Regions from separate parts of the Homo sapiens genome. Here regions 1, 2, 3, 5 and 6 are each reported to be linked to region 4. The links are microRNA targets in miRTarBase. Many come from high-throughput screens and were not tested one by one. Region 4 holds a microRNA gene; each other region holds the end of a gene's coding sequence.

Region 1 (5,373 bases), not on the chromosome of region 4:
CTAAAATATTAGGCAAACTAGAACAGGAGGGCCGTTATTAAATTGTTCACAATAACTTACTATTTGAGACAAAACTGAATAGAAAATCTGAATTGTGAGAATAAACAAGTTGTTTCTCAACTACAATTATTTGACAGCTACTCAAAAAGTGCATATACTGCAGGTCTTAATACTACTAACTACTGGTAAAAATGACTAAACCAGAACTGCCAGCACCAAATTAATTTCAAGGGTTATAATTTTATGCATTTAGTATTAACTAAAATGCTAATTATCATTGGTTAGCTTTTCAAAATCATACTGCCTACAGAATTTCCACAAAAGACTAATTTCACACAATTTAATTAAGATGTGAATATGAGATTCTGTGACTCTTCCCACTCCTCTCCCCCTGACAAAGAAAACTCATATAGTGGAGGAAAAAATGGAGTCATGCAAATAGGACAATGATGAGGATCAATTGAATAGTGAAGACTCCCAAAGTTAATTAATTAGATTTTAACTGCTTCAAAAAGACCAGGGTACTTGGATCACATCAAGTAACTGGATGTTGGAATATGAGATTAATGCTTGTACAATCCTCTCATTGTATGTAAAGATGCTATCCTAAGAAAATGATTTGAATAGTATCTTCCCTTATTAAATCTTAGAAAATTTTACTTTCAGGTATTTCATAACCTGAAAAGGCTAAGAACTTCCAAGAGTTCTAATACAGTAAAAAAATCAACCATGTCCCATATGTATTGAAACAAATTAGAAACTGTTAAGAATTTAAGTACCTTGAAACTACTAAATTCAAGATAACACAAAGATTCATGTTGAACAGACCTCACCAGATCCAGACTGACAACATATACCACAAAATTTGGCCTAATAGTCACAAACCATGAAGACACAAATATATTCGTTAATATTAGCAGCTCTGCTATAACTAGAATAGTTTTCAAAATATTTCCAGTGGCTCTAAAGAATGTCTAGCCACAGCTCAAAAATCACATCCAGGTAAGATCTTAGTCTTAGAAATCTGTGCATTATCTTGTTTTCCTGATAATTTAAAAAATCAAATTTTCACCTATATACATCCCCAGAAAAAATTTTGAATCTCCTTTTCAGGTACAGTGAAAATTCAATAATACATCTCCTTAATAAGATTTCCATCATATTGATAAATTTATATTTTTATTTTTCATTTCACTTGAAAAAAATTAGCTAATTTTTACCAATGAAATGGTAAAAATAGAGGCAACTATAACTTAAAATTACACAGCTTCTTAATGTTTTATTCATAGCATTCTTTATACATCAGAAGCTTCACTGATATTTAATTTACTGCAGCATCCTGTAGGTGAAGCACAAAAATTACATTAAACAAAGAAACAAAAGCACTTTTGACTTTTTAAAATTATATGTGTATTTATATCCAGTTGACAAATAGCATCACAATTATTACTGTATAAAAAACTAAAAATCACCATGGAAGCTAAGGCCTAAATTCTCATTCCAATTGTTCCCTTTTGTTGATACCTAAGAGATATTAATTAGATTCCAGTACCTCAAAAAAAAAAACAAACCCAAATAAACAAAAAAACCCAGGTCTACATTATTTACATACAGTATGGGAAAAAAAGCTGCTTTTTGGCTAACTTAGATTGCGGTTACCTGCAGTATTTACACTGTAAATGTTAAGGGGAAGAAGCACTACTAACAAATACCATTTAAAAAAAATATATTGTGCCTGGAATTTTATTCTTAAATTAGTTGTATATCCTAATAAGTGTCTGTTGAATAGAATTTGACTTCTAATAAATCTACTGAAAGTGTGAAACAGAGTACCACTATGCTTCTTTATATTGCTAATCTAGATCCTGTTAGGTCCAATATTGTAGTTAACTATAAGCACTGAACCTTAAATGAAACAATGGCAACATGTGTGTAGATGAAATTTTATTCAGTATTGTAAAATATAATGCCTTGATGTTTACTCACAATTATGAGACTATCCTATTCTTTTAATCCTTTAAGAAGTCTCATATGATAGGTCCCTAAACAGTGAAACCTTCCAGTAACTTACCAGAAAAAAGTTTAATTATGTTATTCTGTTCTTAGATGTTTCTAATATTTAAAAGCATATCTAAACCCTTGGCAAAAACAAACACAATCAATTCAGTGTAACAGACTGAGCTTTAAACTGTACTTTAATTTTCAATAACTGTAACCTACTGGTTAATTGAACCAAACGTAGAGTATTTAAATGACTCACTATGAAGTGTGTCAAATCAATGATAGAATGCATAGAAAAGTGGAGATAAGTTTGGGGGAAGGTGCAAGGTGGGTTAATGTGAAAAACGGTAAATGCCAGTTTTAATAACAAAAATGGTACTAAACGCAGATGAACATTAAATTAATACAGTATAAAAGAGAACAGCTTAAATAAACTGGTATTCACATATTACAATAGCAAAGTTATGACAGAATGAACTGAAGACACGAACAGTTTTGAAAATTCTCTTTTCAGCCTACTTCCAAATAGAAATAGTCAGGCTTTTTTCCTGTACATAGTTTGATGCTTTGTCTATACCATATATAGTAGAAAAATAAATTCTTTAGCAACCTAGAAACAGTTTATAAAACTCTTAAAGTTTAATTTTCTTTGCCAGACATGCCAATAGTTAAACTGACAACTATAAATTAAAGCTATATAGACAATAGGTATAAGTAATATAGAACAGGTTAAGAATACTACATTTACCGGATTTTTTTTTAAAAATTACTGTACTTTCTTAATTCCTGTGTGCTTTGCAATAGGAATAATAGGGACTTTGTTTTCTTAGAAAAGATAACATGTAAGAGTATAACACAAATAAGATAATTTATAATATACATGTACTTCAACAGCAGCCTGGTTCATGCCAACATCTTGGTTCTGAAGTTAAAATTGGAAGTACAATACCTAGAACTTAACAGTTGGGAGAGACAATATTTATTTTAGGAAAAAACAGAGCAAATCAAACTCTTAGGAGCCTTGAATCTGAAAATCATCTATTTACTATAATACACATAAGATAATCTTAAATTGTAGTATGAATTAAGATAACATTGACCAAATAATTTTTTTCTTTACTACACAAAATATAACCTAGTGAAATTTACCTGTGCCACCTATTCTGAAAATTTTATCCATAATTTAGTGTTCTGGTTTTATCTTCACTAACAAAATGTTTACCCCCAAAAGCAGCAGTCACTTATAGTAATTCTGGTACCAACATCAAAGGAAAAAATTGGCTTAAAAATGGTGCAAAAGCCATTTTGGATTTTAGTACAACACATCACAGAAAAGAATATGAATACAAATTTGTAATATAAACACTCCAAAGAGTCTGTCAGTACCCAAAGTATTTTTATTGCTATATTAGCAATGGGTTTTTTGGATATTTTTTAAGGGCCACATAAAAATAGATTCAAGGAACAAATTAAATTGAAGTCCTAGATTTAAATGTTTGGTTTAAAGAATTTTCTACAACAAATTTCATGTTTATGTATGAAAAGTTATATAACCTTATATGAAAATGTCATGGAAGTATTTTCTACACTATACTAAATGTGTTCCCCAAGAGGGAAAAAATTAAAATATCTAAAATATATTAGATTAAGATTACAAGACCATCATAGATCTTTTGAACATGCATCTGTTTACAGAATTAACAGTATACAAAATTTTTATTTCATTATGGACCATAAAGAAATGAGTTGGTGACAACTATCCTTTGCACAACATTATCAACTCACTTTAGCCACAAGCATGTCCTTGGTATGTGTGTAAAAGAAATAGGTTCATTTATCCCTCATCAAATCATCCACGGGTTTACTTGGAAGTAAAGATGAAGGTACAGAAATGTGAAATATGTCAAGTGTATTTTTTCTTTCTTTCAAACAACATCCCAAGCATGGCCTCAGTAGCCTGAAATTATAAAATACTTAACTGGGCTTTTAGTTATCTACACCGACTGCCAGAATGTAAATTAAGTTGCCCAAATTAGCACATCAAATAACAAAATCAGCCAGAAAGCAGGCTGAAAAGCATTAAATGTTTCATATAGGTGAGTTTTTAAATCATTTAATTTCTATAGAAAAATTTTATTCACAATATAAGGTGACAGAAATTGCCACAGGAATGATATACTGATTGCAATAAGGTTGCATGCAGCAGCAGCTTTGTACTTTATAGCTATTTTTGTTTATAAAAATTAAACCTCTCCAGTCATGCTTATCACATGGTCTTAGATTTGTAATGTAAGTGAATAAGGAATACCATCTAGTTCAAAGAGAAAATGTAATTTTGAATGTGAATTATCTGTATGAAACATGAAGTATACTACTGAACCCTGAAACATGCATGTCTAGATTTGCTTTTTGTCCAAATCCAGCCTGTTTGCAATCACTTCCTACTCATATAATACCAAGAGGATCCGTTTGTAATTGTGGTTGTATCAGCTGAGGTTGCAATGGTGGCGGCAACTGAAGTGGCACCATTGGTTCCACCAACTGTCCTGGGTTTGAAGGTGGTGGAGGAGCCACAATGTTTGTCGTTTCTACAATTTCTCCATTGTAAAAGAAAAACTGACACTGCTGAATGAATGTTTCAACAACAGATTGATGAATCTTAGTAGTAGACAGAAACTCTCGATTTTCAAAATCAGGTCTCATCAAGGTTGGCCAAAAACAGATGGATAAGTTGTCTGCTGTCATTAGGTTGATTTTATGTTGCTGACTAACCCTGAAATTATGAAAGGAAAAAACATTTAGAAATCAAAACTCATTACAATCACAGAATTCCAGAGCTAGAAATGATCTCAGATTTAATGTTACCTTTTATCCTACTTCAAACCTGGGGTTTAAAAATTTGCATAAAGAAGCATCTTTAATTCGTATGTAAAAAACTTTTCCTGGGCCAGGTGCAGTGGCTCACGCCTGTAATCGCAGCACTTTGGGAGGCTGAGGCAGGCGGATCACCTGAGGTTGGGAGTTCGACACCAGCAGGACCAACATGGAGAAACCCCATCTCTACTAAAAATACAAAATTAGCCAGGCGTAGTGACAAAGCCTGTAATTCCAGCTACTTGGGAGGCTGAGGCAGGAGAATCGCTTGAACCTGGGAGGTGGGGGTTGTGGTGAGCCGAGATCGCGCCATTGCACTCCAGCCTGGGCAACAAGAGTGAAGTGAAATTCCGTCTCAAAAACAACAACAATAACAACAAAAAACCTTTCCTGATGTGACAAATTGTATTGAGTTTCTGGCAACAGAAACAACAAATTCTAATTGTATATGTAACTTCTTTGACTACTGTGAGAGATGAAAAACCAGAGTATGCTCTC
Region 2 (5,373 bases), not on the chromosome of region 4:
AATTATCAATCTCCAACTGTGAAGAGCATTTCATGTTTCTAAAAATTGTAACACTTTTTCATTGATTTTTTTTTTTTTGATAGAGATGAGGTCTTGCTATGTTTCCCAGGCTGCTCTCAAACTCTTGGCCTCAAGCAGTCCTCCCACCTCAACCTCACAAAGTGTTGGGATTACAGGTGTGAGCCACCACACCCGGCCTGGAACAATTTTTGGAAGAAAAAGAAATATTCCTCATGACCATCCTACTTGAGATAGTGAAAGCATCTGTTTTGTTTTACAAACTGAAACAGGATAGCAAGAGTCAAATACGTTTTCAGGCAGAAAGAATTTTATCAGAAGAGACATTTTGCTGGAAAATAGGTGGACTGAAAGTCTGTTGATGTGTGTAGGAAACATCATTGTTAATCCTTTGTGTGTGTAGGCACACAAGTTAAAATAAGAAACAGTAAAATTAAGTGTCATAAGGAAAATATAATAAGCAGGCATCACAATTATTAGGTACTCTTTATTGTATAGTGTATAAACGGCTCTGTAACACCATAATGACAGCACACCTAGGAGCCCACAGCTGATAGGTCCCAGAGTAAATAATTTAGCTATTGGCGTATGTCGAATAGTATTTTGTTTGGTCACAGTTTTGGGAAATCTTCCTCATTCATTTTAGATATTGAAGCTTTCTTTTTCAGGCTAGAAAAAGTTAATGTAGGCTGGGTGCTATGGCTCATGCCTGTAATCCCAGCACTTTGGGAGGCCGAGGCAGGAGGATTGCTTGAGCTCAGGAGTTCGAGACCAAACCTGGGCGACATAGTGAGACCCTGCCTCTATAAAATTTTTTAAAATTAAATTAAAAATTAAAAAAATAGGGGTTGGGGAGAGGGAGCATCAGTTAGAATAGCTAATGGATGCTGGGTTTAATATCTAGGTGCAACAAACCACCATGGCACATGTTTGCCTATGTAACAAACCTTCACATCCTGCACATGTACCCTGAACTTAAAAGCTGAAGAAAAAGAATTAAATAAAAATTAAGAATAAAGAAAAAGTTAACGTAGAGGAATGTTAATCTATGACATCAGAAAATTTTAAATAAATTTAAAATTCTTGATAGTTTATGCATGTTTCTTCTATTCGAGATAATATGCACTTAGCAAATATAAAGATGGCATTTTTCAGTCATTTTCATACACCGTGTGCCAAAAGATTCTGTATAACAGAGGTGGATTACAAAAGCAACCAACCACAATTTAACAGAAATTTAAGAAATTTAAACTTAAAGAAATCTAAACATAATTTACAGAATAATGTGTTCTAATGAGGGCTTTTTGTTTAAATAATTTTAATTGTTCTTTATATCTTCATTCTTATGAAAAAGTTTTTCAAACTTACTATAGCTGTTTTAGAATATTTGAAAACTTCAAAAAAGAAAATTTAGGCTGGGCACGGTGGCTTATGCCTGTAATCCCAGCACTTTGGGAGGCCTAGGTGGACGGATCACTTGAGGTCAGCAGTTCGAAACCAGCCTGGCCAACATGGTGAGACCCTGTCTCTACTGAATATACAAAAATTCGTCGGGTGTGGTGGTGGGCGCCTGTAATCCCAGCTACTCAGGAGGCTGAGGCAGGAGAATCGTTTGAACCTGTGAAGTGGAGATTGCAGTGAGCCGAGATCACACCACTGCACTCCAGCCTTGGTGACAAGCAAGAATCCATCTCAAAAAAAAAGAAAAGAAAATTAAAACTGAGAAAACCAGTATGAATATTTTGGCAGTTCCTTCTAGGGTTTTCTCTTAATTTCCTTTTGTTTCTCTCTCTCTCCTTCAAAGCACACATACACTTAAATGTACACAGTTGAATTGGTACTGTTGATAGTCTTATATCCTGCTTTTTCCACTTAACATTACTATGAGCATTTTTCCATGTCATTAAATATGCTTTGAATATGTTCTTGGCCACATAAAATTCCATCCTATTGATGCACCTGTTTTCTTTTAAGCAGAGACACATGCTATGCTTTCCAGTCATGGTGGACTCTCAAAAGCCAAAGAAAATACCTTGTGCTGATCTACCATAAGCCTCTTATAAACATCCATTTTTTATTTCATTTATTACATGTACCCATGGTACAAACGCACCTCTGGACACTAGATACAATCAATAGTTAATAAGCACTCTAAAAAAAATGCCAGTGAGCAGTGAGCTCTGTCCCCTTGATGATGTTTAGTCACCCACATCACTATTACAAGTATATAAGGTGTCAACAAGTGTCACAAATGCTTTTTCCATTTTGCGATAGCCCCAAATGAATTTCAATCTTTCAGGCACCCATCTCAAGAACTTCAGATTCTAACAGGGCAGTTTTGAGTTTTAATATTAAAACTTCTAATATAAACGCTACAAACTTACCATAACACCATCTTACTTTACACTTAGTTTTATGAATTTGAATAATTTTTAAATTATTTTATTTCAGTTTGTTTTCCCACCTTCAGTCAGGGGAACTGATTTAGCTTTAAAACAATCTGCCAGAAACTTTGGTTCTGACCTCTTTAAGGCTGTAACTAGTAGAAGTGATGTATCTTTAACACACACCAAGCATAAATGAACCCTTTAATCCTCAGGAGGGCACTGTGGAACTACGTTCTTAGGGTTGTCTGCTGTAGGAAGGTTCTTTTGTTACTCAGATGTGAGGGGTGCTGGGACAGGCCTCCACAGAAAACTTTTTTATTTTTATTTACTTTAAAAGACAAACCATAAAGATTTTTTTCAAATATGAAACTGAAATGTATATATTTCATAAATATTTTCATACTAAACTGAGCAAATTTAAGGATGATTAAGCTGTTTCTACTGGGAAAATCATAGGTAAGGAAACTGCTTTCACGTAGCTTTACGTACATTTGGAAAGAGCAAACCTGAACTGGGTTTTTAATCTTGTAATTTTTAAACGTACAATAATCAAGAGTTCTCAGCCCTATATTGATAGTATTTATGGTAAAACTAAATAGTTTTTTTTTAATAAAAAAAGGTATTTTAATTTGTTGACATAAAGTTGGCTTTTTTGTGCGTGCTTCTTACATGCCTTATTAACCCGGTGTGTTTAAACCAAACACTGTTCATATTTTTCCAGGAGGAAAACAAAACAATAAAAAACATTATTCAGATAAAATATTATAGGTTTATTTAAAACTTAATTCTCACCTTGAGTATGCAAAATACAAACTCCACAAAATGTTCATTTTACTTTGTAGTTTACAAATATACAAAATAGACGTTTGCTTAAATTTATATTACATATTTATTAAGGCAAGGAACTATATAGAAAAACACATTTGTTCTGCTTAAGGCATACTTGGGAATAAACCATTGTACAAATTATTGCACATCTGAAACCACAGTGCATAACAGACTGTCTGCATAAAAATGCTAAAGAAGTAAACCAGGTATATTACCTGACTTAGGTCATAAATGTTGATCGGAAGACAAATATAGATTTTCCTTGTCAAAGTATGCAGCAGTTTGAAAACTTTGGCTTCCTTGTTTGGTACCTTTAGAACCAAGACTCACCAAGCACCATCATTTAGGCTATTTAAACATGTTTTCTGTACCTGAATTTCTTCCTCTTCTTCTAACATCATAATAATGGCTTTTAGAAGGTAAAGAGAATACAAGGTGATCTTTTATGCTTATATTGCATCAATACACAATTCAAGGGAATTCTGGTCTTCCCTCCCCCAACTCACGGATATAATTTATACCCTGATATCCACAACTTCCAGTCACCCCCTTGGCATTTTGTAAGTCCAGGAATATTCAAGTCGGATTTAGAATTGGAATGATAGAAGATCCAGTCACAGACCCCATCTGTTCTTTGATTTTTGTCTTTTGGATTCCTCATTTTTCCTGATTATCCACTCACAAGATGACTCAGTTGGGAACTTGACCATGATTGTAGTGCTTTCTGGCTGGGCTCCTTCCCTCATCGGGAAGACAGTGTGAAAAGTAAAAAATACTGAATTCTCTTCTGGCAGTGTGGGTCATATCCACTGTCTGGGATTTAAAAATGCCTCTTCATGTGTAAGGCGAGGTGGTCCGACCTGGAAAATGCTCGGTCGCATTTTTGGCACTGGAACGGGCGGTGCCCCGTGTGTTTACGGTAGTGCCTGGTCAGTTCATCTGAGCGGGCGAATTTCCATCCACAGCCGTCCCAGTCACAGTGGTAAGGTTTCTCACCTGTAAAGGTAAAAGAAAAAAAAAATTGACGCTATTGCTATATCAAAGAATCGCCCCTTTTAAAAACTGAAGGCCAGATAGTAAACCAACTCTGACCCTATCCTAAAGAAATCCAGGAATGTCTTTATACCACTGAAGGGGTGTATTGAATTCCATATCATAAACAGAAATACATTCCGTGCTTAAGTATTTGGTCTTGTTTTTAGGGGGTCAGTTAAGCACACAACCACCACCTACACCTATACTAATGTTTCACCAAAAACACACAAACACCACCTAAACCTATACTAATGTTTCATTTGAGTCAAGGCATCTCAGTGGTGGAAATGAAATTTGGAAATTGTGATTGGTAGTGTGCCCAAACCATGCAATCTTATTCCTACTACGACTGGGGATAAAAAGCCACAGGTGGCTACTTTTTTTTTCTTTACCTTTACGTTACTGAATGCTGCACCTAAACGACTTTGGGTACCTACTTACATTGACATGGAAATGCTCTGCAGTGACAACCCTAAATCAGAATCTTCCCAGCAATTTTGACCATCATATTCTTGGAATTTAAAATAAAACCTTCTGCTTGTGGGGGAAAAAAAATAAAAATGTAAATCAAAACGAACAAAAAATAAAAAATAAAAAAGTAAGACCGAATTGTTACGACCAGAATTCAAAATAACAAAAAGGGAGGGTGAACCTGGGAAGGGAACATTAAAAAACGATTTTTTTAAAAAAGCCATCATGCTTTTGCATAGCAAAGTATAATTTCTTGATTATAATGCCAAGCTAGGAGAGGCCCACAGACCGCGGGGAATCTCCTGCCTTTTAAAAGCCTAACAAAATTGCACATTCAAACACAGATACCATCCATCAAGCAAAAGGCTCCTGGGCAGAAAAGTAGGCGCCGGTTTGCTGTTCTCTCCAGTGATCCCGGAGATCAAGGCGATAGACTGCCCTGGGAAGCCAAGGAGGCACTGAGGAGTGTCCACTGGTAGCCTATGGGGCTGGAAGCTAACCTGGGAAGTCAAGGAGGCACTGAGGAGTGTCCACTGGTAGCCTATGGGGCTGGAAGCTAACCCCCCTCCCTTCTGCAGTTTGTCCCCCTACCTGTGTGGGTTCGCAGGTGTGCCTTGAGATGGGAACTCTTTGT
Region 3 (5,373 bases), not on the chromosome of region 4:
GCAGCCTCTTCCCATAACGTTCTTCTGTTATTGTTGTTGTTGTTATTGTTGGTTTTTTGAGACAGAGTCTTACTCTGTCACCCAGGCTGGAGTGCAGTGGGGTGATCTTGGCTCACTGCAGCCTCCACCTCCTAGGTTCAGGTGATTCTTGTGCCTCAGCCTCCTGAGTAGCTGGGATTACAGGCGCGTGCCATCACACCTGGCTAATTTTTGTATTTTTAGTAGAAACAGGGTTTTGCCAAGTTGGCCAGGCTTGTCTTGAACTCCTGACCTCAGGTGATCTGCCTGCCTCATCCTCCCAAAGTGCTGGGATTACAGGCGTGAGCCACCGTGCCTGGCCTCCTCCCATAACATTCTATGACCTAAAATTAAGATGCTTGAATGGGTATTCTTTTTTCAAACAGAAATCTTTCTTCCTCTTTAAAATGCCCACCCTCGGCCGGGCACTGTGGGAGGCTGAGGCAGGCGGATCACGTGAGGTCAGGAGTTTGAGACCAGACTAGCAAACATGGCGAAACCTCGTCTTTACTAAAAATACAAAAATTAGTTGGGCATGATGGCAGGCGCCTGCAGTCCCAGCGATTAGGGAGGCTGAGGCAGGAGAGTTGCTTTAATCGAGGTGGAAGTTGCAGTGAGCCGAGATTGCACCACTGCACCCTAGCCTGGGTGACAGAGCGAGACTCCGTCGAAAAAAAAAAAAAAAGCCCACCCCCTGGAGCAACACAGCATAAATATAACCCTCTTTAGTAAGATGGGCCTTTCACTAGCTGAAGCCAATCATTATGGCTCCCCTAAGTTTTTTATCCAGTTATCCTTTGGATAAAAATAAGTAATGCGCTCAGGGGAGATGGCGTGTTGGTTTACTCTGCCTCTTGTGCCCCCAGATGTCTACTGTTGTGGAGCTGAACGTCGGGGGTGAGTTCCACACCACCACCCTGGGTACCCTGAGGAAGTTTCCGGGCTCAAAGCTGGCAGAGATGTTCTCTAGCTTAGCCAAGGCCTCCACGGACGCGGAGGGCCGCTTCTTCATCGACCGCCCCAGCACCTATTTCAGACCCATCCTGGACTACCTGCGCACTGGGCAAGTGCCCACACAGCACATCCCTGAAGTGTACCGTGAGGCTCAGTTCTACGAAATCAAGCCTTTGGTCAAGCTGCTGGAGGACATGCCACAGATCTTTGGTGAGCAGGTGTCTCGGAAGCAGTTTTTGCTGCAAGTGCCGGGCTACAGCGAGAACCTGGAGCTCATGGTGCGCCTGGCACGTGCAGAAGCCATAACAGCACGGAAGTCCAGCGTGCTTGTGTGCCTGGTGGAAACTGAGGAGCAGGATGCATATTATTCAGAGGTCCTGTGTTTTCTGCAGGATAAGAAGATGTTCAAGTCTGTTGTCAAGTTTGGGCCCTGGAAGGCGGTCCTAGACAACAGCGACCTCATGCACTGCCTGGAGATGGACATTAAGGCCCAGGGGTACAAGGTATTCTCCAAGTTCTACCTGACGTACCCCACCAAAAGAAACGAATTCCATTTTAACATTTATTCATTCACCTTCACCTGGTGGTGATCCTCAGGAGCAGAGACTGTTATGAATTCTGGCGTGGCTTATGAAATTAAAAGTTGCCATCAAAGCCATTTTCTTTTAATTTCACAAACATCAGGCAATTTCCAGGGTTGGTCTAGAGTCTTGCCACTAAATATTGATCACTCGTTTAAGGACTTTCCACTCCATTGCAACTGATGCCACTATATTTGCCTAGCAACTTGCAGCTACTTCCTTTTCAAAGCCTCATGTATCTCCCAGACCCTTCTCTTGAAGTCCAATAACAAGACCAAGTAAGAATGTTTCAACAATGCGTTGGCAAGAGATGTGAGATGACAACAGGAACATACAAGATACTGTGAATCTAGATGTTCTGACCTAAAGATGTAGTCTACATAGCCCCAGCTTGGGGTCCAATCCATCTGTCCCTGGCATGTGCCTTCATGTAGTAGGTGCTTTCCTGATCCCCTTTGCGAGATGCTGTGGGTGCTAACACCTCAGAGCTGTCCTCTTCTCTAGAGTGGAGGTTTTCAAAGTGCATCATCAGCATTACCTGTGAACTTGCTGGAAATACAAATCCTCAGGCCCCACCTCAGACCTACTGAATCAGAATCTCTGGGGGTTGGCACAGCATTCTGATTTACCAAACCCTCCAAGTGATTTTGATGTATTCTAATTTTGAGACCATCTCTAGAAAAGAATTGCTACCTCTTGTATGGAGGTACAAAAGACTGACCTCTTACATCAAGGAACTTCCTTTCCCAGAGCTCCTCATGGAATCAAGCTGAAGTCAGTCTTCTTCTGAGAGCACATTCTTACTCAGTTTTTTTCCTCTGTCCTACGCTGCTTCCCTCACTCCCCTTCTCCTAAGAGCACTCCATCAATAAACCACTTGCACGAGAGTCTCAGTTTTGGTTCTGCTTCTCACCCTAATACAGGACTTGTCCTCTAAAGGAGGATACATGTAGACATTCATTCTTCTCCAAGTCCAGGTCTGAATTATATGACCCCCTTCCCTGCATAGTAGCTTGATCAGCTATGTGGGTTGTCTGGGACCTTCTTGGGACATAGGGTTTCTTTCTTGGGACCAAAGGGTTTCTTGGGATACAGGACTTCCAGTATGAAAACTTGGAAGTCTCATCGGGTGCAGTGGCTCACGCCTGTAATCACAGCACTTTGGGAGGCTGAGGCAGGCAGAGAACTTGAGGTCAGGGGTTCAAGACCAGCCTGGCCAACATGGTGAAACCCCATCTGTATTAGTCTGTTTTCACGCTGCTGATAAAGACATGCCTGAGACTGGGCAATTTACAAAAGAGAGAGTTTTAATGGACTTACAGTTCCACGTGGCTGGGGAAGCCTCACAATCATGGTGGAAGGTGAAAGGCATATCTCACATGACAACAGACAAGAGAGAGCAAGTGCAGGGAAACTCCCCTTTTTAAAACCATCAGATCTCATGAGACTTATTCACTATCACGAGAACAACACGGGAAAGACCTGCCCCCATGATTCAATTACCTCCCACAAGGTCCCTCCCACAACATGTGGGAATTCAAGATGAGATCTGGGTGGGGAGACAGCCAAACCATATCACTGTCTCTACTAAAAATAAAAAAATAGTTAGCCAGGTGTGGTGGCACATGCCTGTAGTCCCAGCTACTTGGAGGCTGAGGCATGAGAATCGCTTGAATCTGGGAGGCAAAGGTTGCAGTGAGCCAAGATCTCGCCACTGCACTCCAGCCTAAGTGACACAGGGAGACCCTGTCTCAAAAAATAAATAAATAAATAAATAAAACCAACTTGGAAGTCCCAGGCAAGCTAGAATGAGTACTGCCTACCCAATCCTCTCTCGCTTTATTTCTTTTCCCTTTGGGACACCTCTTCTGTGGTGACAGATCTGGAAGTGACCTCCTACTCAAGAGAGACCATGTGTACCTATAAGAACCTGGCTTTGCCTCCTAATGGGATAACCACTGTGTCTAGCCAGACCTTTCACAAACCACTGAATTTTTCACTTTGTGATACCTTCCCCTCCTGCAGTGTCATGTATATTTCAACCAATGTCCAGAAACTTTTCTTTTGGGTTAGAATCTGACTCCTTGAGGATACTTTCAGTTTTCTGTTCCTTGCCATTTCTTCAAAAGGCTGAGCAGCTGTCTCTAATACTTACAACTGACAACAGTAATTCATCCCATCCCTTTGAGAGCTCCGGGTTTGGGCCTGTGGGGTTGCTCCTATGCCCAAGTATTTTAAATATATTGTCCCTTGCCCTTGAGAAAAAAGGTCTAGTCTCCATGGTATGAGAACTTTCTAGGCCAGGCATGGTGGCTCACACCTGTAATCCTAGCACTTTGGGAGGGTGAGGCAGGAGGATTGCTTGAGCCCAGGAGTTCAAGACCAGCCTGAGCAACATAGTGAGACTCTGTCTCTATTTTTAAATTTTAAAATTAAAAAAATAAAAGAACTTTCTGGCTCCTCCTATTGCTAGAATCTCTCTGAGTCTCAAATGATAATAAAAAAGTCTCTTCCAACTCTGGTAAAACCACACACCTGTTCTCCCTGAGAACCTTACCAATCCCTTTATAGTTGTCCAGGTTGTATAAGGCAGTATGAAGAGCAATGGTTCTCAACTTTGGCTGCACATTAATTAGAATCACCTGGGATAAGTTAAAACCCTCCAATGTAGGGCATACCCAGGCAACACCTGAAACAAATCAGAATCTCTAGAGGTGGGGCCCAGGAAAGAATATTTTTTAAAGCTCCTTCAGATGACTTCATTGTGCAGTTAAGGCTGACAACTGCTGTAGAGTCTCATTAACTTCAGGCCAATAGCAGTTCACTGGTCGACCCAAACCAGGGGTGACCACTCCTCTTCATTGGTATGGACCCCATTCTAATTACCAACTTGTTCTAATCTATGGTGTGTATCAGGGCCAGGACTAGGCTTCTCGCTGACCTCACTTTAGTCTTGCCCTGGTGCAGATATACGTGATTACATGAGTTTTAATAAACTCAGATGGGGAAGGGTGCAGTGGCTAACGCCTGTAATCCCAGCACTTTGGGAGGCCGAGGCAGGTGGATCACTTGAGGTCAGGAGTTCAAGACCCACCTGGCCAACATGGTGAAACTAAATTTTCTACTAAAATACTCTACTGAAAATACAAAAAAATTAGCCAGGTGTGGTGGTACATGCCTGTAATCCCAGCTACTTTGGAGGCTGAGGCAGGATAATCACTTGAACCCAGGAGATGGAGGTTACAGTGAGCTGAGATCATCCCACTGCACTCCAGCCTGGGCAACAGAGTGAGACTTTGTTTCAAAAAAAAAAAAATCTCAGATGGTACTCCAAGAGGGATATTTCATCTGCTTATGAGTACAGGTGTTCATATGTTAATTCCCCAAATAACTTTTCCCAAACTTTTTATTTGGAAAGTTTTCATATACACAGAAAAGGTAAAAGAGTAGTATATTTAATTTTTTTCTTTTTTGAGACAGGTTCTCACTGTGTTGCCCAGGCTGGAGTGCAGTGGCACCATCTCGGCTCACTGCAACCTCCGCCTCTTGGGTTGAAGTGATTCTCCTGCCTTGGCCTCCCGGATAGGTGGAACTAGAAGCGTGTGCCACCACGCCGAGCTAATTTTTAAATTTTTAGTAAAGATGGGGTTTCACCATGTAGGCCAGTCTGGTCTTGAACTCCTGACCTTAGGTGAGCTGCCCACCTTGGCATCTCAAAATCCTGGGATTACAGGCATGAGCCACTGCATCTGGCCCACATTGAACTTTGTACCTAGCTCCTCCAGTTATTACTATTTTGACACATTTATGCGATCTTTCT
Region 4 (5,373 bases):
CTATTCTTACTCCTTTCTCCCTTCACCTCTCTCCTTTCAAACCTTTCATACTGATCTTTTAAAAGATTGCTGTTAACCTGGCTTTCTTTCCATCCTCTCTAAGAGAGGATGAGGTTAGACCAAGATCTCATTTGCTTCATCCGGTTGGGGATCATAGTTCCTAAGAGCTAACCAAAGCGCCACCTTGGAGTGGCGCTGGATTCAAGTAGCCAAATCTCTAGCACAGCTTGTGAAGGTATCACAGAAGCTATGTCTGGGGAAAAGAAAAAAAACAAAACAAACAACAACAAAAATTGAGTTCAAAATTTTTTTCCATGCAGCTGTACTTTTATTGTAACCATTAGTCCTCATCAGAACATTTTTAAGTATAAATTCCTTCATCCCTGAGGATATTTTATGTTTTATATTGAACATAAGAAGGGAGATCAAGGAATAGATATCACATTCATGAGCTTACATTTAAGCAAGACAGTCTTTTCTAAAGGAACAAAACGCTATTTCCTAAAAGACATGTAAATATAAATGCTGACAAATAAATTAGATGAAAGTTGTTCCTATTTTTAATATTGGGAGGCATCTGATGCATAATGGTAGTCATCTTTAATACCACCAAAGTTTGCCAGAGCATAGCTAAATGCTATTATTACTCCAGAATTATTTGTTTTTTATTGTTATAAACTGCCTGACAAAAAAGAGAGAAGTAGTAAGAGCGAATCACTATAAGCAAGGTATACAATGACTTAGTTGCCAGATACTGACCCAAGATTGCTTTAGACTCATTCAGCCTCTTGCCCTTGAATATCCATATGTTATGTAGCCACAGTTATAATTCATCATGATTCCATGAAATTGCAGAGCTACAGGTTCACACAGATTAAGTTATATTTTGTTCCCACTTTATCCTCAGGCAGCAAAATATGTTACATATGTTTCAACAGCAATATTGAAATAGAAAAGTGTTTCCTATTAGACCTGAGCAAATCAGAAAACAAAATAACCATGAAAATCACAGTTCTCAAATAATTGACTTGTAATTTTATCCTATGTATATAATGTTTGTAGGCGGTCTACTAGGGTACTTCAGTTGTTATTTTAGAGAATATGATAGGCGAAAACTCAGAAGCCCAGAGATAGAAAATAATTAACTAAGATCAGTAAGAAAGTGACCTTAATATAAATGAACTGAGGCAGGCAAAGAAGTCTATCAGATCAGGAAACATTTGATTTGGATCATAATCAAATAATCAGAATAATTTTATTCATTCTCAGTCATAAGAAAGTTAAGAAGGTAGCATAAACAACATTTTTATCATATTTTCCCTTTTAGATTGAACATACTTTTTTGAATAGTGGTGTGTACCAATCATTCTGCAATGTGCTTTGATAGACTACCATATTTCATGATTGCATTCTCTGCTCCTTTTAGGCTACAGATCAGCAGTTTTCATGTTTCACCCCTGTTTCCATTAGAAAAGCAATTCAAGTTAGATATAATATTTAAAATGTAGGTTTTCGTTGTTGATGATAACTGTTTCACTCTCTCTTGTTTCATCTAAAAAACACAAAAGTCTTGTTTTAAAACAACCATTGTATGATCACGACTAGGTCAGCAATTGAGCAGGATTTATCACAGATGGCTCATCTCTGCTCCATATGGCTGGGGTGGCTTGACTAGGGCTACACTTACATGCCTGGAACTGGAGGGTAACCAGTCAATTGGGGGTACCTGTGTTCCCCACATGGCCTTTTTCTGCAGCAGAATAGTCTAGACTTCTTTATCTCTTGGCTGGGTTCCCCGCCTACAGACGTGGAAGCTGCAAGTCTTCTTTAGGATCAGACTTGAAAGACTCAGACATCATTTCTGCCTCATGGCGTTGGTAAAAGAAAGTCACAGAACCAGCTCAGATTTAAGTTTGGGAAATGGATTTTGCCTCTTTACGGGAGAAGTAGCATGCACATACACATAGGCATGGGAGAAGTTTGCGGTGGCCATCTTCACAACCTACCACAATTATAAGACGAAAGCATATTTTAAGTTTAAAAATTTACATTATCTACATTTTCATTCTCTGCTTTCTTCCTCCTTTCTTCCACAGATGCCTGTATATTATTACCCATCTGGTCAGTACCCTACCTCAACCACGCAACAGTACCGGCCCATGGCCCCGGTTCAGTACAACGCTCAGAGGAGTCAACAGATGCCACAGGCAGCACAGCAAGCAGGTACTTGGAATCTGTTTCCCATTTGCTTCTCAACCCAGTTATTTTTGCTGGTGAATCTTGTACTCTTTGGATGAGTGTCCAAGCTTGGCAATTTAAACCAGCACATTTTCTCTACCCAGAGAAGATAACAAAGCATTTGATTGACTCTGTGTGGAAAAGTAGTAGGTACAAGAAGGTGAAGCATATGTCAGACTAGCATCCCTGGCATGCATGTTAAACAGTCTCCATAAATTATTTTTTGATCCTTCTTCTGTTAAAGCAGAAAGTCAACCATGTCCGTACCTTTCTAGTTCATACCTTCTTTTAATTTTTTTTTTCTTTTCAATTTGAAGAGAGTGCTTCCTCTGTTCTTAAGGCTAGGGAACCAAATTAGGTTGTTTCAATATCGTGCTAAAAGATACTGCCTTTAGAAGAAGGCTATTGACAATCCAGCGTGTCTCGGTGGAACTCTGACTCCATGGTTCACTTTCATGATGGCCACATGCCTCCTGCCCAGAGCCCGGCAGCCACTGTGCAGTGGGAAGGGGGGCCGATACACTGTACGAGAGTGAGTAGCAGGTCTCACAGTGAACCGGTCTCTTTCCCTACTGTGTCACACTCCTAATGGAATGCCGTTATCCAAAGAGCAGCACGAACCCGACAGGGCTGAGTGGCTTGTGCTAGGGAGAGGTTTGTGTCATTCCTGCTGACCAAACTGCAGGAAAAACTGCTAATTGTCATGCTGAAGACTGCCTGACGGGGAGACTCTGCCTTCTGTAAGTAGGTCATGTAAAGAGCACGTGCTCCTTGCTGCTACTCATAGATGCCTGCTCCGTGATCTGATTTCTGCACTGAATCTATGTTATGCATATGGAATGTATACAGATACATGTATGTAATATATACACAATATGTACCATTTTTATAACCTATGAGAAAAGTGCAGTTCTTGCCAAGGATTAGCACCAATCACAGACATCCTAAGAATACCAATGCTGACACTGCTAGCATCCTGTCAGATTGGAGAAAGAATTAAATTCCCCCGTATTGTGGATGGTTACATGTTCTTTGGTTTATCTCATGGCCTATTTAAAGTCTGTGGGAGAAGAATTAGAGAAACCTATATCTTCCAGCCAGATTTTGTCTTGTTTCAGCACTGTATTAGTTTGGGGAAGAATATATTTGACCTCTGAATTGACTTTAGACTTTTACAGTGTTTTGAGAACACTAAAGGGTTTCAAATAACTATTTATTTTTAAAAAATCACTTGGCAATATTTTCTCTAATTTGTGGAAAACGTTATTACCTTTATCATTTTGGTGGTAACGGTGCTATCAGTTTAGATACATGCTGTAGAAATGTGTTGCTTGCATTCTGGACTATCTTATTTTATGCTAACGTTAATTAAAGGGTTAATTTACAATCTTGAGGATCTTGGTTTAGAGGCTATGTGCAAGTTTTCTACTTGGTTACTAATGCCTTTAGAAGAAAAAAGATGCAGATATCTAATTATAATGATTTTTATTAGGTTTGGTGCCATTGTGTGGCAATTTTTAAAGAGATTATTTCAGTCTTGTGGTAGAGTGTCATCATACAAAGAAACGCAGTTACAAAACATGCTGCAATCCACTAAACCCATAAACTCTAGATCTATGTGAGGGGATGAGAAAGTTAGATGAATATGATAACTGGGCAACAGAATTAGATTTCAAAAAAGTTTAGGCCTCCCCCACTGACTTCTCCATTGCTTTTTCTCCTCTTCACTAACTTTGTTAGTGGATGTCAAAACAAGAGACAATATATGAGGCATTTTTTACTCTTTAATAAAGCACAATGGGAGAATTTAGGGATGTGGAAACACCCTCTCCCATTCAGTTAGAGACCTCACTGGCTCCACCTACATTCCATGGCAACCTGGTAGCTTTGGTTTGTCACATTCTCCCACATCACCGCAAAAATGACCCTCCCAAGGTAAGATAATGACACTGTAATGAGAAGAGTGCACTCTAGAGCAGCATCAAGCTAAATATAGAAGCAAGGCAGTGCCTAGGGTGTCAAGGAAGTGAGTGCCAGTTAATGTGGCCTGTACAGGGTGAGGAAGTGAGAAAAGTGAAATGATCATAAACAGTATTGTCCCCAGAAATGATGGCATTAGTATACACATGCACACTGAGACCTTTGGGCTCTTAGTTTTTGTGACCACCACACTGGATACCTGGCCTAAAATCCCAACACAGTTTCCACCACAGTGATGAATGTACCTAGTATTTGGGAAAGCAGATGGTGTTCCCTGACCTTACAGAGAATCACTTCTGCTAATAAAATCCAAGTAACCAGACCACACAGTGGCTCTTTGAGAGTGCACAGAGGCTCTGGGTCCTACAGCTGGGCGTCCTTTTGTTGAGCCTAGGGAGACTAACAGAAACTTTCCAAATGGTCATGGCAGTCATTTGTGAGAGCAACTCTATGTGGATGGACTATCTCATAGAGGAAAGAGCCTCTTCAGATAACTGTATAAGTTATATTTTCTGGAAGAACTAGAAAATAAGACTTCTCCATCTTTAAGTCAAACTATGGGCTACTATCAGCATGTCACCCTCCCACAGTCATGTTTTAACTTGTTCTTCCTCCTGCCTCCTGCAGCTGTGTGTCTTGGGATCTGACCCTTTTCCATCTTCATCTGATAATGACACCAGATTATGTCATAACATCCTCAGCTATCACGTGGTTAAAATTAGAGTGAGACAGAATTATGTCAGTTAAAGTCAAATGAGATTTTAATCTGAATTTGCTTCTTGGCGCTGTTCTTAATCTTTATTTAATTGCAGTAAAAAGCCTCTCTTCCTTCTCCTACATTCTTGCCAGAATTGAAATCTCTGTCAGTTACTACATCTTTCCTAAGACTTAAAACTCTACACAGTGAATTTTTGTAAAGTGAACTGGACACTATACTGTTGATTAAATAGGACACCTGAGTTCCCCTGTGGCACAGTAGGGAGACATAAGTTCTTTATCCTGGTGATTTTGTACTCTTCATCCGATCAGCACATGGTAAAAGGTCCTAAACATGTGGAAGAGGAAGCCTATGTTGGTGGTAATTATAAATAAAGAACACTAATGTTGGGGCCAGGTGTGGTGGCTCACACCTATAATCCCAGCACTTTGGGAGGT
Region 5 (5,373 bases), not on the chromosome of region 4:
CTAGAAATGGCTTTGCAGCAGGGGAAATTATTGGCTTCTAAATTAGTTCAATGGATGATAGAAATGTTCTTTTGTTGATGGAATTAATGATGCTAAATATACATATAAATTCAGTATATGCTGGCTAAAGTATTTGAACTTTTCCTACCTCTCTATAACCAGGGTTTAACAATCTAATGAGGCTTTTAGCACATACTCTTAGGGTGGTGCCCAGAGCTTGATGGCTTGATGATTGGGTTGGAGGATTGAGGCTGCTGATGGCATTACAAGGCTCATGGGATGCTACTTCTAGAATATTAGTGCATCTGCTTCAAGTGTACCTTTGGAAATGTAAAATGATTTTGAGATCACGTAAAAAAGCCAAGCTCTGGACTTCACCAAACTCACAGAAGAGTTGCAGGCACTCTTTTGCCTGCTTGCTAAAATGTGTTTCATTTAAAAGTATACCGGCCGGGCGCAGTGGCTCACGCCTGTAGTCCCAGCACTTTGGGAGGCTGAGGTGGGCAGATCACTTGAGGTCAGAAGTTCAAGACCAGCCTGGCCAACATGGCGAAACCCATCTCTACTAAGAACAAAAAAAATTAGCTGGGCATGGTGATGCGTGCCTGTAATCCCAGCTACTTGGGAGGCTGAGCTGGAAGAGTTGCTTGAACCCAGGAGGCGGCGGTTGCAGTGAGCCGAGATTATTCCGCCACTGCTCTCCAGCCTGGGCAACAGAGTGATACTCTGTCTCAATTAAAAAAAAAAAAAAAGGTATCCCCACACATAGCAGAAACTGTTTCTAAAAGTTGTTTTCATCATGAAATAGTGAAGATGTGGTGTTTTGGGGGCTACCTTTACCTGCCAAAAAAGACTGTGCATGACCAAATTGGTTTAGGTCAATCTGCGACAAGGCAGTAGGCGAGTGGTGCAGGCAGAGAGGGGCCGCCTGGCAGGAGGAGCCTTAGGGACTCAGGTGCAAGAGAGTTCTCAGGAACTTGGAAAAAGGCTGGTTTACTAGGGGTGCTGGCTGCTGGGGGTGGTTCCTGAAGGACTTCGCTTCACTGAGCTTAGAATTTATCCCTCCAATCAGTGTTGTTGAAAATGTGCCCAAGAAGTGCTTGGGGTGGGAGGGGGGAGCGGTGGGACTCTAGATCCTGCTTTTAAAAATAAGCTCCCCAGGTGATTTTCAACCCACCAGAGTTTAAGAATACCATTTTAAGCCATTGGTATTGGTTTTTCAAAGTGCTGGGGGGTTCTGGGGGGCGCTGGGGGGCACTAGGGGGGCGCGGGGCGGCAGGGAGGGAGATGACTGGATGGGTGCCTTCGCAGCAGGGCGGAGCATGGATGGGAGGGGACAGGTCAGAGGTCAGGAGGTTTTCGGACAGTCCAGATGACAGTGCTGGAAAGGGCAGGGGCAGTTTCAAAAGACACTTTAGGTAGTGATCAGTCAGTTGGCTGGAGTGCCTGGCAGGAGGGCTGGGTGAGGGAGCCAGCAGGGCAGATGACTGACAGATTTCTGGTTTGGGGATAGGATGGAAAGTAAGAGCGCAAACCTTCCTTAGGCTACTGTTGGGTCTGTCCCTTTAGTCTCGGGAATGCGGATGGAAGCACGGCCTGCAGTTCTGTCATTCTCTGGGCCTGTCTGGGCCGCTGCCCCAACCACCCATGCCAATCTGTGTGACCGAATCCCCCTCAGCCCACTCGTGGCTGCCCTTGCTACCACCCATGCCAATCTGTGTGACCGAATCCCCCTCAGCCCACTCGTGGCTGCCCTTGCTAGCAGCTGCTCAGCCTCTCCAGGTCCTCGGTCCCTGCCTGTGCCATGCCTGGTCACTGATGGGTTCTAGAAGGTGTGGTTTCAAATGAAAAAGGCATTATGTGATAACACTCAAAAAAGGAGTTATTATAACCTTCACTACTTAGTTCCTTTTAAATAAAATAAAGACAATCCCCAAAGTGGATTATGCAGAATAGACAATGAGGGCCGTTTCCCCATGGTCGCTGTTGCCCCAGATCCCTGCCAGATGGCTCGGCAGAGCAGCTCAGGTTTCAGCAAATTGCAGAACCTCATTAGGACTCGATTTCATGTTTTTAGATGCTGTAGGCTCTACATCAGATGATGATGACTTCGGAAACCTGTATGACAACACAATGAAAGCATGCTAGTGACATGTCCAATGAAATCTGAAACAGTCGGTGAATTCTTTGCATATTTTATTTTTCTTTTTTTGATTTCCAACTCACACACATCTGGCATATTTTACATCTTTGCAATAAAACATGGTTACAATAGCTTAAGGAATTTATATATCCAAAATATTTCACCATGATCTCAAGATGAAATGAACTTGTCTTCCAGATGTTAAGTATCCTCCCAATTCTAAGCTACAAACTCAAGATATTGCTTACAGCCTGGTGATGAATAACTTAATCATTACGCTGATTCCCCATAATTTCAGAATTTCATAAATACAAACAACAGTGAAGAAGGAATTCAGTGCTAAAACTTACTAGTACAAGGTGGATAACAAATAAGTAATCACATCAATAAATAATGATATGTTTCTGGTGCAAAGTGCCAATACAAAGAACCCATTATCTTGTTTTATCTTTTTAAATAAATGACTGCGAGTGAGTGTAAATTCTGAGAAAATTACATTCCTGTAACATGCCTCATAGCCCTACCGACACAATATGTACATCTATGACGATACAGTCACCAAATATACAAAGAAGAAACATGAAGAAAGTGTATATACCCCTGGGTGTATAACTTGATCAGTACAATGTATGGAAAATCATTTGATAGCCATCATTTTATATCATAAAAGATGAAATGCCTTAGGCTAAGAATGTGGCTTTCAGTGAGAATTTCACGAGAACCTAAAAGAATAACTTCAGTTATTGTTGTAATAAAGTTTGACTTGTTATTAAAGAAACTAAGCTATTCAAGAACCAAAGAGAAAAAAAAAGTTAGCATCAGATTATCCTCCCCTAATGTATACACACCAAGCCAGTGGGATAACTCTGGAAGAGATGTCCAGGTGCTGGGAAGTTATTACTACAGAACTAACGCCCATGACTCCTATTTATACAAGAAAAACCAGGACCTCATCCCTAAGCCCCCTTTCTGCTGTGTCTTCAAATTATGCAGGGTAGGGCTGAATTTTCTTTGTATAAAGTACCCAAAATGGCAAATAATGGCTTAGTATCCAAATGCTTTATGAGCAAATTTCACTCAGAAGGGATGACTTTAGATTAAAAAGTGCAAACTATATTTTGGTGAAAATGTCAAAAATTACTGATGGAGCCCAAATTCAACCCTTTCATACAAGCTGTGTCCTTGGACAGATCTTTCTGTTTCATAGTGTGAATGCACCTGTTCCATCAAGCCAACAGGAGTAAGGAACATGCAAGTTGTAACTCCACAATAAAATTAAGAAACATTTTGTTCTTTATACAAGGTTTTACTTTTACAAAAGTATCCCTTTTAAATAAGATGCATCTGATGTACAAAGTATCAAACGTGTTTTTTTTTTTTTTTCTCAGCTTGAAAAGAGGCTGGAAATGGGATGCAGGTTAGGTTCAAAGCTTAAACTTTGTAACAACTGGACACAAGGTTCCTCAGAATTGTCAAAAGTCTCTTGTGACACATCCTACAACCTTTTCTCAATAAACAACAATATATGAAATAATTACCAAAACATCTCCTAATTCATATAATTTACATGATATAAGCTTGCTTGATAGCAGCTGGTGTTCAGTCGTGAAAAAACACACAAAGTAAAATGGTTGCTGACTACAATGTACAGCTATTGCTGGGTGTGATGGAATGTACAAACGGAGGTCGATGTAGACGAGTTTTTTCCACCAGAGATATTGCCTTTCCATGCAGCACTTGTGCTCTCAGCTTTAACTTGGCTTTTGGTTCTTCCTTTATCTTCAGTATCTGTTCTGATGCTCATAATGCCACCGATTAAAATCTATATTAAAAGCTACAATGCTACCAGAAGCCATGCCAGTGATCAGAGTCCTGGAAAAGCAGAAACAGCAGTTAAGAGTGATATAAAATCATTTCTGTGGTTGCTATTTTACACTAGACAGTATCTCAAAGTTTGGCATTTTACACTAGACAATATCACGATCTCAAGGTTTGCCAAGTCTTAATTTTGTATTCATGGAAGTAGGACTGAAATTTCTTCTTGGTTCTGCTGAGAGGAGCACAGTTAGCCCGCACACACCTGGACAGCCAGCCCTGCTGCAGAGCGTGAGGGGCCCACGGAACCACATTTCCAGCCTCCGCTGGGTGCCCCATTTCTCTCAGCAATCACACACGTGCCTGTCCGCTGCCTTGTTTTGGGCATCTATTGGCTTCTCTGAGGATATCTGGCATCTCTTCCTATCTCTGTGACCTTTCTTTTCTTTGCCCCCTTGAATCACTCCACCTCTTGTCCTCTCGGTCCACAGTCTCCCTGGACGTAAAGGCAACGACGTCTCATTCTGAAGCCCCAGATGCTGATTTCCCATTGCCAAGTGGAGGTCACTGCCAGGCTGTGTCACAAAACCCTCAGATTCAACATGTCCACCATGAATCACTGGTACCTTCTGACCTTGCTGGTCTTTTGCTGGTTAAGTCACCTTGTCTCCTCTCCCTCTCCCTCCTAACTGATCAGCTGTTCAGCTCTGAGGCTTCTTTTTCAGGGATATTCCTCCCCAGTCCCACTGCCACTGACTGAACTCAGGTTTCAGGATTTCTGTCTACATAAAGTGTTGCTTCACTTTTGATTAGACACCTCATCCAATAAATACCTTTTGAGTAATATCCCCAATATATGTTTATCAGTTTATAATTGATATGCATGCACTATTCATTATAAAACAACAAAATAATCAAAACCAAGGATGAGGTTAAAATAGAAATAGAAACTTAGTATCTTTCCCCCCTCCATTGAGACCCCCTAATACTACTGCAACTTTGAATATGCTCTTCCATCCACCCTGTCTGTTCATGCCTGGTGAATGGATGAGCCTCTTCTAAGGTCTTTCCTGCCCTTCCCAGCCCTCAAGAAGAGTTCATCCCTTCCTTCTTCTGTTAGTCTGTTCCTGGTGCCCTCATATGCAATGATTATGAGGATCTGAGCTCTCTGGGGTCAGTTTCTTGTTGTGGATCCTTAGTACTTTGCACTGCACTCAACCTATGATGATGGCAGCAAAATGAATACACGAACGAGTAAGAATATCAGGGAAATATTGAAACTGCTTACAAACACAAATCATTTCAAACACTCTGGAAACACACATATATACAAATAGTAACACAACAAACCATTCCCATTTATTCCTAAGTATGGGCTGCAGCACTTTGGGATACTCCAATAATAACCTTAAACC
Region 6 (5,373 bases), not on the chromosome of region 4:
CATTATTGGTGTTTTTGGAACTATATAGCTTTTTGGTTGGAGCAGGGATTGTTATGAGGCATGAGTGAGGGGGCAGACTCCTCTGAGGCCTCTTTAATTTTTAAAACAGACTTATTTATTCTCTAAGGGCTTGTTGAGGATTTACTGGGCACCCAGCTCCATGTGCAAGACTTTTCCCAACACAGCCTTGGCCAGGCAGATGGTGTGTCAGGGCCACAGGTTTCCGTAGCCTCTTGGGTGATAGAAAGGGGCCCAGGCCCTGGGCTGGGGCTCAGAAGGGACTCAAAGGAGGCCCTTGCCCTTATGGGACTCAGCCTGATTGGAGAACAGACAAGGAGATTTGGGATTACAGCGCAGGAGGTGGGGTGGTGAGGAAAGCAGGCTGCTGGCCGGGCCCCAGGAGTGGCCTAACCAGCTTGGAGGTGGGGGTGGGGAAGCCTCTTAAGGCTGACTCTGGCTTTGGCCCCCAACAGAGTAAATCAAGGAATGACTCCAGGACTGATGGTAAGGACACCAGTCACGTCCTCCCTTGACTGAAGGCAGTAAGGGCAGTAGGTGAAATCAGAGGCTTTGGGGTCCTGCCAGGGGAACCTGAACATGCTACTTCTGGGCCTCAGTTTCACTGTCTCTGAAATGAGACCACAGTAGGATCAAGTGACAGTAGGATGAATCAGTAAAGGTGTTGAGTCATTGTTGACCACTTCGCACGTCCCTGCGGGATGTGGATGAGTACCCTACCTTCTGTCACTTATCAACCCCTATGAGTGGGGGGTGAATAGCCCCATTTTACAGGTGGGAAAATGGAGGCTCAGAGAAGCCAGACAACTTGCTCAGAGTTGCACAGTGGGAAGCAGCAGAGCTCCGTCAGGTCCCGGCCTTTGGACCCTGGCTGTGTGTTTGACGGAGGCCTGGCTTTCCTGGGATCATGGGATTCTTTCAGGGTTTGGGGTATGCGGGGAGGGATTCCCATCACTGCCAGCCGTTGTCCCACGGCTCACTCGGCCTTTCTGGCGTTCTCTCCCCAGGCGAGAAGCCCTTCTCCTGTCCCCACTGCAGCCGTGCCTTCGCTGACCGCTCCAACCTGCGGGCCCACCTCCAGACCCACTCAGATGTCAAGAAGTACCAGTGCCAGGCGTGTGCTCGGACCTTCTCCCGAATGTCCCTGCTCCACAAGCACCAAGAGTCCGGCTGCTCAGGATGTCCCCGCTGACCCTCGAGGCTCCCTCTTCCTCTCCATACCTGCCCCTGCCTGACAGCCTTCCCCAGCTCCAGCAGGAAGGACCCCACATCCTTCTCACTGCCATGGAATTCCCTCCTGAGTGCCCCACTTCTGGCCACATCAGCCCCACAGGACTTTGATGAAGACCATTTTCTGGTTCTGTGTCCTCTGCCTGGGCTCTGGAAGAGGCCTTCCCATGGCCATTTCTGTGGAGGGAGGGCAGCTGGCCCCCAGCCCTGGGGGATTCCTGAGCTGGCCTGTCTGCGTGGGTTTTTGTATCCAGAGCTGTTTGGATACAGCTGCTTTGAGCTACAGGACAAAGGCTGACAGACTCACTGGGAAGCTCCCACCCCACTCAGGGGACCCCACTCCCCTCACACACACCCCCCCACAAGGAACCCTCAGGCCACCCTCCACGAGGTGTGACTAACTATGCAATAATCCACCCCCAGGTGCAGCCCCAGGGCCTGCGGAGGCGGTGGCAGACTAGAGTCTGAGATGCCCCGAGCCCAGGCAGCTATTTCAGCCTCCTGTTTGGTGGGGTGGCACCTGTTTCCCGGGCAATTTAACAATGTCTGAAAAGGGACTGTGAGTAATGGCTGTCACTTGTCGGGGGCCCAAGTGGGGTGCTCTGGTCTGACCGATGTGTCTCCCAGAACTATTCTGGGGGCCCGACAGGTGGGCCTGGGAGGAAGATGTTTACATTTTTAAAGGTACACTGGTATTTATATTTCAAACATTTTGTATCAAGGAAACGTTTTGTATAGTTATATGTACAGTTTATTGATATTCAATAAAGCAGTTAATTTATATATTAAAAAGTCTTTGGTGTCATAGAGGAGTGGGTATTTTGAAAGGTCTTTGGTAAGGGAGGAGGGGACAGGAATTCCTGAAGCTTAGATATTTCTGACACAGCCTTAAATCTTGTCCTTGGAAACATCATAGGGCTTTGGAGTCCTGGGTGTCACTGTCAGGGACCTTATGAGACTGGGTTTTCCCGTTGGCCTGGGTGTCCTGTCTGCTGCTGTTTGGGTGAGCCAGCGGCATCCATACGAGCTCTTCACTATACACTGTGGCTTTTTACTTTCTCGTTCTTGAATTTTGAAGTTGATCTGGCCCACGGAGTGCAAAGCTGGCTTCCTGGGTCTTATCAACTAGACAGGCTGCAAAGCTCTGCCCCAGCACTGCAGGTCTTTTGGGGTGGGATTGTCCGCTTCCCCCAGATGCGAGTGGAATGCGACCAAGGAGACAGAGGATGTCCTTCCTGTTTCCAAGGGCTCCAGGCCCCCTTGGGCCTCCTTGTCAGTCCCACACCTCCGTCTTGCTGCTGGGTACCAAATGGCCTTTGATGCGAGGAAATTGGCTGGCTGGAGCCAGTAGGGTGAGAAGCCAGGCCAAAGGGTAGGGGTCACTCAGCTTCCTGCTCCGAGGACGGCGGGACGGTCAGCATGCGTCTTGGGCTAGGGTAATTCATTCCCCGCCAGCCGATGGTGGTGACCTCACCACTGGGGGCCTCTTGGGGCCAGGAGAAAATGAGTGTCCTTTTTGAACACAAAAGGTGCTGGAGGTGCCAGTTTCCTGTGAGGAGCTGAGGCGTCCCAGAGCTTCGGAGCCCCAGAGTCAGGCTGGGGGTGGGGGGAGCTTCATGTTCCAAAGGAGAGATGATTCTTTCTTCTAAACAGGAAATGGTGACCCGCAGGCCGGGAGCAGCCCTTAATGACTTGCAGCTTTCCTCCCAAAAGGAAAAAAAAAAACGTTCTCTAACAATCGCCAAATTGTGGCCTGCCTCCCTGAAGGGAAGTTAGGGAGTTGGGGGGATGGGGGTTGGGCATCCATGAGCTGAAGGCCTACTGTGTCCTGGGTCCCTGCGGGTCCCTCTAGGTCGTCTCCATCCACCCACAGTAGGTGCTGAATGAATGATTTCATGACTTCACATAATCCCTGGGGGTCGGGCCTCCGGAAAATGAGGCACAGAGGTGGGCTTGCCTGAGGTCACCAAGCCCGGCCCCTCAGGTCATCCTGGGAGTTCGGTAGGCTGGGCTCATGCCGCTGACTCTCAGGGCACCTGGAGCAAGGCTCTCTCCCTCTGGGGGCCCCAGTTTCTGTGTCTATAAAACAGGGTGACAGTAGTGCCTTCCTCTCGGAGACTGTACAGAGGCATTCATTCATTCAGGGGTTTCGAGGGTACCATATGTGCCAGGCCCTGGGGTTACACCCGTGAACAAGACAGGCCATCCCTGCGTTCATGGGACGTATGTTCTGGTCGGGGAGAGAGAAAGCAAACAAGTGATTAAATAAACAAGCCGCTTTTCTACAGTGATGGTGCCAGGACAGAATGAAAGGGTGCCAGGCACTAGAGAACAACGGGGTGGGGCTCCCCAGGCCAAGGCAGTGAGAGCCCTGGAAGAGCTGAATTCCAGCCCGGACCTGAAGGAGGAGAAAGATGCCGGCAGGGAAGGATCTGGGGGAGGGAATAGCAAGCCTGCTGGAATGTGCTGCCCCCATGAGAAAGACCAGGATGGCGGAGGGACTGGGAAGACAGGGTGGGAGAGGAGAGTGGGCCCAGCTCTGCAGAGCTTGTGGTGCTAAGCAGGTGGGAATTTTGTCTAAGCCCCTAGGGCAGCCACTGGGGCTGTAAAGCAGGAGAGTGCTGAGGCCTGCTGTTACCTTTCCTACAAAGATCTCCCTGGCTGCTTGGGAGAATGGATCTCAGGGGTCCAGGAGGAGAAAGACAAAGGCAGGGAGACCATGAGAAAGCCAGAGGGGGCCAGGCACCCTGGCTCATGCCTGTAATCCCAGCAATTTGGGAGGCTTAGACAGGCAGATCACCTGAGGCTAGGAGTTCGACACCAGCCTGGCTAACATGGCAAAACCCCGTCTCTACTAAAATAAAAAATTACCCGGGCATGGTGGGGCATATGCCTGTAGTCCCAGCTACTTGGGAAGCTGAGGCAGGAGAATCGCTTGAGGTCGGGAGCTGAGATCTCGCCACTGCACTCCAGCCTGGGTCACAGAACGAGACCTTGTCTCAAACAAACAAACAAACAAAAAAGGGCCAGAGGGGAGGGAGGGAAGGAAAGGAGGGAGGATGGTGGCCTGGCTCAGGGTGTTGGTGGCCTTGGAGATGAAGCCTGTATTTAAGAAACTTGTGGCAGTTGTGGCCACCCAGCCCATGGCCCAGCACACCTGAGCCCTAGTGGGTGACAGTTATTTAGTATTATTATCTGGGGAACTGGGCATGGTGGTTCACATCTGTGTAGTCCTAGCTATTTAGAGGCTGAAGTGTGAGGGTTGCTGGAGCCCAGGAGTCCAAGGCCAGCCTGGACAACACATCGAGACATTGTCTCTACAAAAAAATTTAAAAATTGGCCGGGCGAGGTGGCTCACGCCTGTAATCCCAGCACTTTGGGAGGCCAAGGTGGGGCAGATCACTTGAGGCCAGGAGTTCGAGACCAGCCTGGCCAACATGGTGAAACCCCGTCTCTACTAAAAATACAAAAATTAGCTGGGTGTGGTGTCATATGCCTGTAATCCCAGCTACTTGAGAGGCTGAGCACGAGAATCCCTTGAACTTGGGAGGCAGAGGTTGCAGTAAGCCGAGGTCGTGCCACTGCACTCCAGCCTGGGCTACAGAGTGACACTCTGTCTCAAAAAAAAAAAAAAAAAAAAAAAAAAAAAAGTCCGGGCTTGGTGGAGCACACCACCAAGGGGATGTTGGATCTAGTGGGGGTAGATACTATGAAGCTGAGAAAAGAATGGGGAAAGCCTCTATATTCTGATCCTGAGCAAACCCCAAAGCACTAAGTGAAAAAGAAATCACCGGCAGATGTGCTCCCTTCTGTGGGCAGAAGAGGGATGAAAATCATCAACACGTGATTCATTCTTGTTTGTATTTGCATACGGAGACTCTGGAGGTTAGGACAATATACTAACAAAAGTGGTTCCCTGGTGGGTTGCAGGAGGTGGGATTGGGGTGGACAAGGACTGGAGGGAGGGAAGAAGGGAGCCATTTTTTAAAGATTTTTAAGACGTTTTACTTTGAAATAATTGCAGCCTGACAGAAATTGCAAGAAACAGTAAACTGGAATCGTACATTCAGATTCTTCAATACGTTAACGTTTTATCATGGATACATCTTCCCTCTCTTCCTAGAC

What was found. Region 4 holds the annotated microRNA hsa-miR-128-3p (UCACAGUGAACCGGUCUCUUU, at 2,785-2,805, shown strand). A microRNA usually pairs through its seed, bases 2 to 8, with sites in the 3' UTR of a target mRNA and lowers its output. Matches are read on the target gene's strand: a 7mer-m8 pairs with bases 2 to 8, a 7mer-A1 pairs with bases 2 to 7 and ends in A, and an 8mer does both.
Region 1: the mRNA of ARHGAP5 is a reported target of hsa-miR-128-3p. The part of its 3' UTR that is shown has no 7-base or 8-base seed match.
Region 2: miRTarBase lists KLF4 as a target of hsa-miR-128-3p. Seed matches in the 3' UTR shown: 7mer-m8 at 3,390-3,396.
Region 3: the mRNA of KCTD14 is a reported target of hsa-miR-128-3p. Seed matches in the 3' UTR shown: 7mer-A1 at 1,894-1,900.
Region 5: the mRNA of NBEA is a reported target of hsa-miR-128-3p. The part of its 3' UTR that is shown has no 7-base or 8-base seed match.
Region 6: the mRNA of SNAI1 is a reported target of hsa-miR-128-3p. Seed matches in the 3' UTR shown: 7mer-A1 at 1,805-1,811.

The regions. Positions count from the first base shown.
Region 1 is chr14:32,154,022-32,159,394 of GRCh38, reverse strand. ARHGAP5 (Rho GTPase activating protein 5) reads right to left here. Exons shown (of 7, transcript NM_001030055.2): 7 at 1-4,774. The coding sequence ends at 4,447. Among named protein-coding and RNA genes, the nearest start is that of RNU6-7, 45 kb to the left of the region's middle.
Region 2 is chr9:107,481,698-107,487,070 of GRCh38, forward strand. KLF4 (KLF transcription factor 4) reads right to left here. Exons shown (of 5, transcript NM_004235.6): 4 at 5,331-5,373; 5 at 3,155-4,229. The coding sequence ends at 4,054. Among named protein-coding and RNA genes, the nearest start is that of KLF4, 5.4 kb to the right of the region's middle.
Region 3 is chr11:78,012,782-78,018,154 of GRCh38, reverse strand. KCTD14 (potassium channel tetramerization domain containing 14) reads left to right here. Exons shown (of 2, transcript NM_023930.4): 2 at 885-2,440. The coding sequence ends at 1,562. NDUFC2-KCTD14 (NDUFC2-KCTD14 readthrough) reads left to right here. Exons shown (of 3, transcript NM_001203262.2): 3 at 885-2,440. Among named protein-coding and RNA genes, the nearest start is that of KCTD14, 7.8 kb to the left of the region's middle. RefSeq lists an enhancer at 1,005-1,505.
Region 4 is chr3:35,741,743-35,747,115 of GRCh38, forward strand. MIR128-2 (microRNA 128-2) reads left to right here and starts at 2,734; the gene lies at 2,734-2,817. ARPP21 (cAMP regulated phosphoprotein 21) reads left to right here. Exons shown (of 21, transcript NM_001385562.1): 19 at 2,097-2,223.
Region 5 is chr13:35,669,543-35,674,915 of GRCh38, reverse strand. NBEA (neurobeachin) reads right to left here. Exons shown (of 59, transcript NM_001385012.1): 59 at 2,180-4,015. The coding sequence ends at 3,925. Among named protein-coding and RNA genes, the nearest start is that of LINC00445, 25 kb to the left of the region's middle.
Region 6 is chr20:49,986,847-49,992,219 of GRCh38, forward strand. It overlaps SNAI1 (snail family transcriptional repressor 1), which reads left to right. Exons shown (of 3, transcript NM_005985.4): 3 at 1,026-2,040. The coding sequence ends at 1,210. Among named protein-coding and RNA genes, the nearest start is that of SNAI1, 6.6 kb to the left of the region's middle. RefSeq lists an enhancer at 2,816-3,568.